Linked DNA regions of Homo sapiens: region 2 is linked to region 1. The links come from fine-mapping of genetic effects on gene expression. A gene starts in region 1. The other region holds a variant in brackets. All regions are shown on one strand. Distances are from middle to middle.

Region 1 (5,510 bases):
AATGTCCTGGAGGGCAACAAATCATCACATTTGAGGTTATTTTCTCTACTGGAAAGAAATTATTTGCATCTTTATCAGATAAAAGTCTCCAAGTTAACATGTACCTGTAATAAATCTGGAAATGTTTTTCAATAGCAAACTATCTTCAACAAATGACATTCCCCTTAAATACTTCTTGAGAGGGCCTGTGAAACAATTCCCGCATATGATATTGAAAAAAAAAAGACTACCTTTTGGCTATATTTTTCAAGTTTTGCATAACATTTCTTAACATTAGAAGAATTAAGTATGTTTTCAGGATTTTCTAGCTAGCAGTTATAAAGCTGGGTCTCAAACTGAGATCTCTCCAGATGCCCACATTGAAATGAGCCACATAACAAGTCTTTGGGGAGACATGAGGGCAGGGTCTCGTGAATCATATCAGCATTGTTTGATTAGGGCTGAGTATCAGCTTGAGTTTTTTTTAAATTGATTACCAGAACATTCAAGATTAACTTCTTCAACTATTTAAAACTTCTTTTTTTTTTTCCCTGAAAAGAAGCAGGGCATAAAACGTGAATAATAAACAATAAGCGGTTCATTAGCAATTTGCTACCACTGGCTCTCAAAGACTGTGGAACCCCACGTAGAAGTCTGATTCTTTAGAATTTGCAGCAGCTATTTTCTCTGAAAGATTTCTTCCTCAACTTGTGGGATTTTATTTTGCTATTATTGTTAATTTAGGACGTTGCCATTTCCAAACATGAACATTGTAATTGTTAATAGTCTTCTATTTATAGAATGATAATTTTGAGCTCTTAAGGTATAAAGCCCAGTTCTCTGGAATGACACTTTGTTCAGCCTCATGTAACTGACTGCAGATTTGATCTCACTGTTTTTCTTTTCTGTGAGTTAATCTCAAGGAAAGACTTCAGTGTTATATTTAGGGAATAAATGGAAAGTAGCGGTATAGCTGGCTTAATGTTCCAATAAGGCTTCAGGACAGTTCTCCAAGTTTAAGGTGACAGGCCCCTATTACATAAAGTTAAAGCAGCAGAAAACTAGCCACTCAAATACTTTATTCTAGAACTCACACTAGATGGGAGAGTACAATTTGGCTTTTAGGTTAGAGAAAAGGTTTGCATTTTGCTCCATTAAAAAAAAAAGTAAACTGAAATGTATTTATAGGCAGTCATAAACACTTTACACAGATTATCTCACTGAATCCTTAACAATTCTACCAGTAGATTCTATTATGGTTCCCATTTCACAGATGAGGAAACAGATCGAGAGAGGTTAAGCAAGCTGACCAGGGTTTATAGTCAGTAAGATGCAGAGCTAAGATTAGACCCAGGCTATCTGATTAGAAGGCTAGATGATATCACCTTCCCAAATTATGCTGCAGTAGAGAAAGCAGATAGAAAAAGAGAGCACCAATCCCATTTCTAGCTTCAGCTCTGGTATTAACTGTCTTTAAAACCCTGGACAAGTCATCTCATTTGTCTGGGCCTCTACTTCCCTCTGTAAAATGAAGGGTGGAAACAATTTGGATTGGATGATCTCTGGGGTGTCTCCAACTCCAAAGATCTGATTCTGTAATTGCATCTTGACCTTAGATGTGCACACACACCTCCCCACACCGCCTCCCACCCCACTGCTTCCCAAGGCGAAAATCTAATCCTGCTCAAAGTGCCCAGTGTAATTTGATGCTAAACTCACGACCCCACCGAATCCTATTACTTACAACATCCCCTCAAGAACATACAACACTTAAAATCTGGCAAGCCAGTTCTTTAGAATAAGTTGCCAATGGGGTGTGATTTTTGGAAGTAAAATGTTAATACCAAAAACAGAAAAAAGAAACAGTTCAAAACAAATGCTCCTCTCTCTTTAAATCACCTCTTTTCTACAATGTTACCTTGACAACTTTGCTCTGGCTCTTTAGATATGGGGGTTTTTCAGTGTGGGAGAAGAGGGGTGTCCTCCTGTTTTGAGGTTTCCTCTTGTTGCATGGAAAGGGAAAATGTCAAAGGTAGAGCATCAAATCCAGCAGAATGTACACAGGGCATCTTGAGGGAGTGTCATCCAGAAATAATCACAGGTGCACAGAATTAGGACGCATTCTGATTCAAAGTACATTCTTTTCTCTTTTCTATTTTCCATAACCATAACACACATTCCAACAGCCTATAAAATGTTACATTTTTGGACCAGCACTGTTGCAGAACAGAGAGCAACAAAAGTGCCTGAAAAATAATTGCATTATTTTTAGTTGCTGCAGCAAAAAATGTACATATCAGGTTGAGGGGACAGCTCCGAAGAACTGTACCAGTGTGGAAATGCTAAAAATATTGCTCCCCCTCAAGCAATTGAAATTTTGAGCAAAGATTTAGGAAGCGGCAGGTAGGGAGATCAAATTAGAATTTACATCTCTCAGCTGTAATAAGCTTGTTATCAGGACTGGCAAGAGCTCAGGGGGCTGACAGGGGTCAGCTGGGGACTCAAGTGTAAGGAGCAAGTGAAAAAGGAGCAGTGTTGAGCAGAAGAAAGAGAGGACTTATCTCCAGCATCTAGCACTACAGAGCAGAGGCTGTGTGGAGAATGGCTGAAAAATCAGAATTGGTTGTAGAAGCAGTTTTCTTTCTGGTTGTGAGTATGAGCCCGGCAGACACCATGAGCGCTGTTGCAGGGGAGTCGGCCTGTGCTTGACACATGTGTTTCCCATTGATAGCTGGAGACAGCCCAGTAGCTGTGAGTCGGTCTGACAAAGCCATATTGAAGTACGGAGTACGGTTTCAAAGCAGTCAGAAAAAGAACGGGAATGCTGTTCAGGAAATTCTTCAGGCATGGGCAGGGACTTGGCTGCAGTTCTGCAGTTGGAAAATCTGACTGGGGCAGCTTCTGAGCGCAGGCTGGGCCTGCACACACTCAGCGGGCCGAGTGGCCACCTCCTTCAGAGCTGCTCAGCACGCCCTGGGATCGCGGGCGGTTTTCATCGGCCGGTTTGTGAAACGGACAAGAGAGGTAGGGTACTGTTCAGTTCTTGCGTTTGCACGCGTCTGTTCACTTTCTAAGCTATCTGCCTGCTGTATTTGCAGGCACTCCGAGTTTTTAGTGTGTGCATGTGTGTGTGTGTGAATTAGCAAGTTAGAACTCCGTCATGTAAACAGTTGGCATGGGGCTCCAATCTGTGCTTTTCCCCCTTTAAGGTCTGATTTTCAGCAGGGCAGAGAGACTTCTTTTGAAAGTTAGGATTTAGCTGGCAACGTTATTGTGTAAAGAGGAGTATGTGAATTCCTTATGTTGTCACCCTGCTCCAACCATCTGTAACTTTTCCTTTCTGCGTGGAAGGGCCGTTCACTGGCAAGGAAGATAATTTCAGATGAAACTGTCTGTGTGTTTTGCTTCACTTCGCAAGAGTTTTAATGGGGAGTTTTTTGTTGTTGTTGTTTTTTAATAGTAGAAAATGGCTCTCATTTTAGGAGGGAATCAGAGTTTGAAGTTTCTACGTTGGATGACACTTTCAGAGTGTCGAAACAGATATGTGTGTATGGGTTTCTAAAATCTTTTATATAGGAGTTTGACTGTCATTATCTGGGATTTGACTGTCAGTGATATATTTGCCTAGAATTATGCTGGATCAACATTTGTAATTCTGTTTCTATAATCATTTCCAATTTTCTCACTTGAAGTAATTTGCAGTTTTACTCTCAAAAAACACTTCTGTATTTTAGGAAACATAGATAATAAAAAAGTAACAGAAAATGGCAGTTTACTCAAAATTCTTCTTAAAGGACAGAGACATGATGGTGTGAATTTTATTTCATTGATCTCTTGGTTTTATTTTACACCTTACTGCAAAAGAGCTTTTTATAAAAATCAAAGTTTTAAAAATTTTCAGCACAACAGGGATCTTAGTGTTCCTCTTCAGTTTTGGTTCTTCTTTATCAACTCTATTGCAGTATAGATTTTTTCCTCTCATAGGAAAGCTATACCTTGTTTTATGTACAGCATTTAGAAAACACACAGTACAATGTCATTGCATTTGAGAGACTGGTTCAGCCCAAAGCCGAGCTAAACCTTACAACTGCTTTACAATTACTAGCACAGCAATCTGTGACAACATTGGTTTTTTCCGAACGGGGCTTGGCCAAAAGTCTGGTTGGGGAGATGGATGAATGAATGGAATCTTGGATACTTCTTGAGTAGCTGAAGAGTGACTAGACCTCTTAGGGTGGATCTCTGTGACAACAGGTGTGCATTTACTTGTGTCCTACAATCTTTAAACAAGTAGCTAATAGAAGAGCCTGAAGTTAATGCTGAAAGAAAAGTGGAGAGCCAGCATTTCTCATTGCTTCCTCTGCATAAGACCTAGAATGAGAAGGCACACATTCTGTCCTGTTGGTAGAAGGTCAGGATTTTCAGCCAGCGATTTTCTTTTTTCTTCCAAGTGTTGTACTTGGAGGAGGGACCTGGGACAGGACTGGCAGCAGGATATCTTTAAGAGATGGTTCATGAACATTTTCTTTATTAGTTTCATCTTCGTGTTGGGGTGGTGTGGGGAGGGTTTGGGGACTGCAGGGCTTGAGGAAAGGAAGGGGGTGTAGTTAGAAGTCAGGATGGACTGTGACCTTATTTTTTTCTCTAAAGTGCCTAATGAGTGAGAAAAATGCCAAGACAGATTAGGAACTGGCATGAACCGTAGTCAAGCCCACTGCCAATGAAAAAGGGAGCCTTCCATGAGCTCGGGTGTCATACTCCTCTATATTTAGCGTGCGTCAAGCATTGAGCAGAAGAGGCGTGAAATAGCAACTCCAGGTTGCAGGATTATAAAGAGCAGTGCTTGAAACTTGGTAGAAACTCTATAGTTTCTCTCTTTTTTAGAAGTAAAGTAGGGAGAAGTCAAGCTCTCTTGACATCTGAAGAGAAAAAGTAAGCAGCGGAAGGGGGAAGGATACAGAGGAAGAAATCCAGGACAGAGGTGGAGGCAGTGAAGGGAGAGGAATGGCCACAACACAAACTGGGCAGTGAGGGTGGAGGGAGGAGCCCTTGGCACAGGAATGAAACACATGTATTAGAAATAGCCAAAGCCACCAGGCACTGATTTGTTGGACTGGAGGTGTGCAGATACTCAGTGGCCTTGGTGAAGAGAATTGTTTTAGCCACTTCACCACAGGAGACTGCATGGTCAGCCTGCCCTGCCTTCTGGAAGTAATCAGAAAGCACATTTTGTAAGAATGGCATTGCCTGAGGGTTCAGATTTCCTAGGCAAGGAGGGGGCAGGCTCTTCAGACCTTATTTTTAACCCATATTTGTTCCTTGCAGAGACATTACTGCCGGGAGTGTTGAGTGAAGGGACCAGGTGGAGATGGTGAGTAATTCCCGGGAGCGAAGCTTGTTCAAGGCCCTGCTCATGGTCATTTTATTATTAACATAAACTTTTGAAAAAGAGAACAAAGTGTTATATATGCCTTATCCTGATGAAGACATTTCTTTAATTTTACTTTTTTATTTTAAAAAATCTGCAGGCC
Region 2 (5,000 bases), 130 kb after region 1:
ACATTTAGTAATTATAAATGGTTTGTGGGTTAGAATATAGACAAAATTTTATTTTTCTGTATTGTAGTAAAAAAATCACATTAAACCAAAAGTAACTTGGTCTCAGTGAACATGGCTTGATTGGAGCATTTGCCTAAGGAAATATTTTTAGTTTCTGAAGTTGTAGCATTCTTCAGTTATTTACATTTTACTAGAACAGAAACCAAAACCACATTTTTATGCTAACTTTCTTATTTGCTTTCCCATGTGTGAAAATCTTTGTTTATTGTACTCCATTCAGAAGCTGTATTTCTTCAAAATAGTAAGGGTTTCAGCAGAGACACCTTATTTTCTTTAAAAATACAAATATTTCTAAAATAGCATTTTTTAAAAACTTGCTTTCATTCTTCAAGTTGGTCACTCTTGCTATGCCTTTGATCCTCTAAAATAATTTCTGACATATATAAAAGGGCAACTTGACATTCGCTGATTGAATATGTAGTAGTTGTTCACAGGAATTTAAATTTCTTTTATAACCTTTACAACTTCCAAAAGTTAAATGCTTAAACCAGAGTCATTTCCATAAAAAGCACAAAACAGTAAGTATTTGACACATCCATTCAAAAATGTATCAAATATTCCATCCCTGAATGGTGGCTTTAGATATTTGGGGATATTTAGTGAAGCACCAAATTTATACTATTGTTTTGGCTCACATTCAGGAAAACATAGAAGCAAATAAAATTCTCTCCACTGTTATTTCTGCCTTTGCTTCAAGACCCCTGCCCAGTAATATCTGACCCTGGGGCAAACACAGTAATCTGAGAAGATATGAAAGCTGAATCCTTTCCCTATGCCGCTCATAGTAAGGACAGAAAAATGTAAATGTCTCTCATGCCCTACTTCACAGTTGGTTGGGAGACATGTGTTCTAGTCCCTGTTTGAGAGCTTGGGAATTCTGAGACTATTTAACTCCTCTAACTTGTTTTCTTATTTGGGATATGTGTATGCAAGTGATGGTGTCCAAGAGACCTGGAGTCCAGTCCAGGCCTTTCTATAACCTAGCTGAGTGACTTTGGGCGGTTTAGGACCTTTCCCAGCTATGCTATGTCTTCCAGAGCCACTGATGTGGGCCAACCCCTCCCCAGTCCCAGCCTACAAACCACACTGTGCCAACGCCCAAGTCTTTCTGTGGCAAACACAAGGAAAGGAAGAGCCTGTCAGAAGGTGCAGTGGCCATGGAAAGAGGAGCCCAGCAGCTCTGATCCCCACAGGTTCCCAGACCTGTGCTGAAGGAGAATCCTCATTCCCCAGCAGGCAGGCAGGCAGGCACACAGGCCAGACACACTTTCTCCCTCTCCGTCCCCATAAGGACAACTCTATGTACATGCCCCAAATACCAAGACAGGCATTTCAGTTAAATATTAGTCACTAAGAAAATGGGGTTTTGGAAATTCACTTTGTAACATGTTTATTCTTTTGCGTGACTGTAGGTTTTGGGGGATTACTTTTCTGATATGTTTGCTTTTACCAAAAAGGAAAACTTACTGTTGATGTGATCGATGTAGTAGACACCAATCTGAGGGTCAAACCCTGATTCCCATCCCCATGGCAGCTCATCCCCAACACAGTCAGCAAATGACAAGGGCTTCGTTAACCTACAACAAACCAGAATAGACACACCAGTGATTCTTTCCCTCAAACCGCATATGTCAAAATTCAGCACCTTGATTAACATCTCTAAACCTCAGATTTTTATTTGTAAAAATGAAAAAAATACAATATTCATGCAGATATTGTAAGAATTAAATGAGATAGTCTATGTTAAGGATAAACACAAGTTACCTTGTTAAGAGCTCACTCATGATCATCATCACCAACATCACGATCATCCACCTGAAATACAGGGACTATGATGCTTGAATTTCAAGAGCATGATGAGAATCACATGGGAGAGCCTTTGTTAAGTGTTTAAACAAGTGACTAGAACATGGTGAGTCTTCAGTGGATTTTAATTTCTTCTTTTCCCTCAAAACTTGAAACTCTTTGAAAGATGCCAATTTTAACAGGGATTTTTTTAGAGGCTAAAGATAGGTTTCTTTTTTAAAGGAATTTAACCTGAATCATGAATAAAATAAAGCCCTTTCAAAGAATATTGTAATTATCTTATTTTTCATTCAACAGAAACCATCTAAGAGTGCAGGATCTCTTGATTAGATGCCAAAGTGAAGGGAAAAAAAATCACCTGAGTCCAAGCACCCTGAATAAAGTACTTTTTTGCCCTTTCTCTTTCCCTCCTGTCTTTGTCTTCTCCCTTTGTTCCCAACCTCCACTTTATAAGTACATAATTGTGTGTATACTATGTGGCTTACACTATTCTGAGTGCTGAGACAGATGGACATTAGATA[A/G]ACAGGTTCACTGCACTCAATGTTCAATGTTCTAGAAGAAAGCTTGTAGTCTAAGTGGAGAGTTAATAGTCTCTCTTACTATCCCAGTCATTAAATCCTTAAAACAGGACTTTTCAAACTTCTGTGTGCATGAGAATCACTTGAATGATTTGTTAAAAACAGTCTCTTAATTTAAGAAAATGAGAGTCAACGGTTTGGCAACTATTTCCCATTTTGCCTGTGTCTTGGAGGAATTGTTTTGTTTTTCTGGGACTCAGAAATAGCTCAGTGGCCACATCTTACACAGGAAGAAATGAAGAGCCCTTTCTTTGCTTCCCATGTCTTCTCTCATGTTTTAAAGAATTGTAGTAAATATTTATTAGCGCTTTGATAAGTGCTTGATGATTTAAAGAAGAGTATCTAATCCATTTAACATACCATCATTGCATTGAAAATTAGAAAAGGCCAATTAGCATCTTGACTTAACTGTTTTCAGTGAGGCGATTTTCAAGGTTTAACTAAACTGATGTGTAAAGTCATAGGTTCAGCTGGACAGCATGCATTTACCTCCTGTTTCCTTCTACAGATTAGCTAGGATTTCTTTTTTATGTTCCCTGGGGGTTTGAACAAGGAAGAGGTAAGTATTGGCTGAAAGATTTCATGCTCATTTACAGGGAAATCTTCTTTAGATAACCCCTCCTCCTTTCCACCCAGACTATTCAAATATGTGTCTTTATTGCATATGGCACCGCTATAATGAAAGCAAAGGCATCACTAATGGATTGATACCATCAATAAAGCTTCTGTTTGGCTGAGGTCTTTCCTTTCAAACCTGAGCTGAAGGTCAATTAGAACAATGATGGAAGGCAGTTAATTTCCTGTTTATAAATAGAGACTAGAAAATGTAGTATTGATTGCTGCATTTCAAGGAGGGGGACAACTACCCTCAACTGTGGGCAGTCTAGGATGATGTAATTTATAAAGCCAGAGAGGACAGTGTTGCTGCTTATATCAACTGAACAATGATTTATTTGACCAAAACCACATTAAGTCTTTGAGTCTGAAATAAATAAAATATAGCCCTGCCTTTTAAAGGTTTAAAATTTTAGACATGAAATCAAGATCTGGAAATCATTATCATAATTGTGCATATGCTAATGCTTTTGGAGTTCAAAGATGGGAAAGATCCACTGGATAATAGGCACTGCAATAGAATTCATAAAGGAAATGGGATTTGACCAGAACTTTGAAGAATGGGAAAGGTCCCAGTTAGGCATGCCACAGACAGAGAGACCAGACAGTGATGGATCCAGCATGAGCAGTCTTAAATATTGTGTCTGGTTATCAATGTTGTTGTATGAATGAGTTAGTGACTGACTGACTGACTGAATGAATGAATGATAATCTGGGGCCTGTTACCCTCAGCTCATTTATTTCATAGCCTGAGATAGTTAAGGGGTGACTCACTCTAGTATACCACAACCCCAGAGTCTTAAATTAAGAGATACAGTATAACAGCATCTACAGGATGTTAAAAGATGGTTCACAAAAAGGAGTTCCCTAACCAAATAAGTTTTCAAAACACTGAGGTGAAGTTAAACAGATCACATTTTACTGCAGGCTTCTTGGAACCTTGAACAGGTGGCTATGCCTTGTCATTCTTCAAGAAGTTAATAGAATACACAACATTTCCCAAAATGATTTGGCCACAGAAATAATGAAATTAATTAAATATGTGTGTAAATATAGACAGATATAGTAGAGATTTTTATTTCCAGAATAGCTCATAGAGAAAGTGGTTCCAGGGCATACTTTAGAAGCTGCTCACACAAAACCGTTTTCTTTTGCTAGGCTTTTCTTAAACCAGGAGTACCTTTCAATGTGAGTCTGTGCCTATGTCCAGACTTTTCATTTCTTACAGCAACTCTTCCCCTTTGTAATGTCAATTCTAAAAAGCATGTAAAAATGTCAGAATATGTGGTATAAGATGTGTATTGCATTCTTATTATAAAAGCATATTGTTTTTTAATAGTTTATAAAAGATATATAATTAGGCTATTTGATGTACTTGGTCTTTCCTGTTGAGTTAACAAATGTCAAAAAACCCATCATATACTCAAAGGAGTTTCTGTAACAGGATAACATTACCAGAAATTCTGGAAGAAAGAAAATGAGGAGAACTTTATTACTATGAAATGAGAGTAAATTTAATGTGACAAACAAGCGGATAAAATGAAACAATTTTAATTTTGTATTAAAGATAGCTATAATGAAATATAATTTTCTTAGGGGGAAAAACCTTTCAGGCTATAAATTAGTTTTCATATATAAAATATTGTTAATAAATTCATTTTTGCCATGGATTTTCACTCTTTTTTTCTCGGGTCCTTTCCCTTTTTACTTATCAGGAAAGATAAGGACTCTACTCTGGAGTTAATGTTGATAATTTTACTTCACATAATTAAATCCCAAGTCACTCATATTTACTCAAGGAGCAATAAGCCTTTAGGTTCTACTTAGGAGGGAGATATGAAGTAGAAATCTCACACTTACTCATTTGACTTTCTTCCTCTGAAAATATCCTTTGTGACTGACCAGGTTTCTTTCCTTCCTTCCTGGAAAATAAATTCTGCA

What was found. PIP is the estimated chance that this variant, and not a neighbour inherited with it, causes the effect.
Region 2: its variant is the best candidate, but not a certain one, in a credible set for the expression of SGCD in thyroid (GTEx, PIP 0.65).

Annotation. Positions count from the first base shown.
Region 1 is chr5:156,324,230-156,329,739 of GRCh38, forward strand. It overlaps SGCD (sarcoglycan delta), which reads left to right and starts at 2,935. Exons shown (of 9, transcript NM_000337.6): 1 at 2,935-3,003; 2 at 5,305-5,350. The coding sequence starts at 5,348. The region is part of intron 2 of LOC124901120 (a long non-coding RNA gene); the gene reads right to left.
Region 2 is chr5:156,456,871-156,461,870 of GRCh38, forward strand. The region is part of intron 3 of SGCD (sarcoglycan delta); the gene reads left to right. Among named protein-coding and RNA genes, the nearest start is that of SGCD, 130 kb to the left of the region's middle. The variant A/G (reference allele first, on the strand shown) is at 2,388.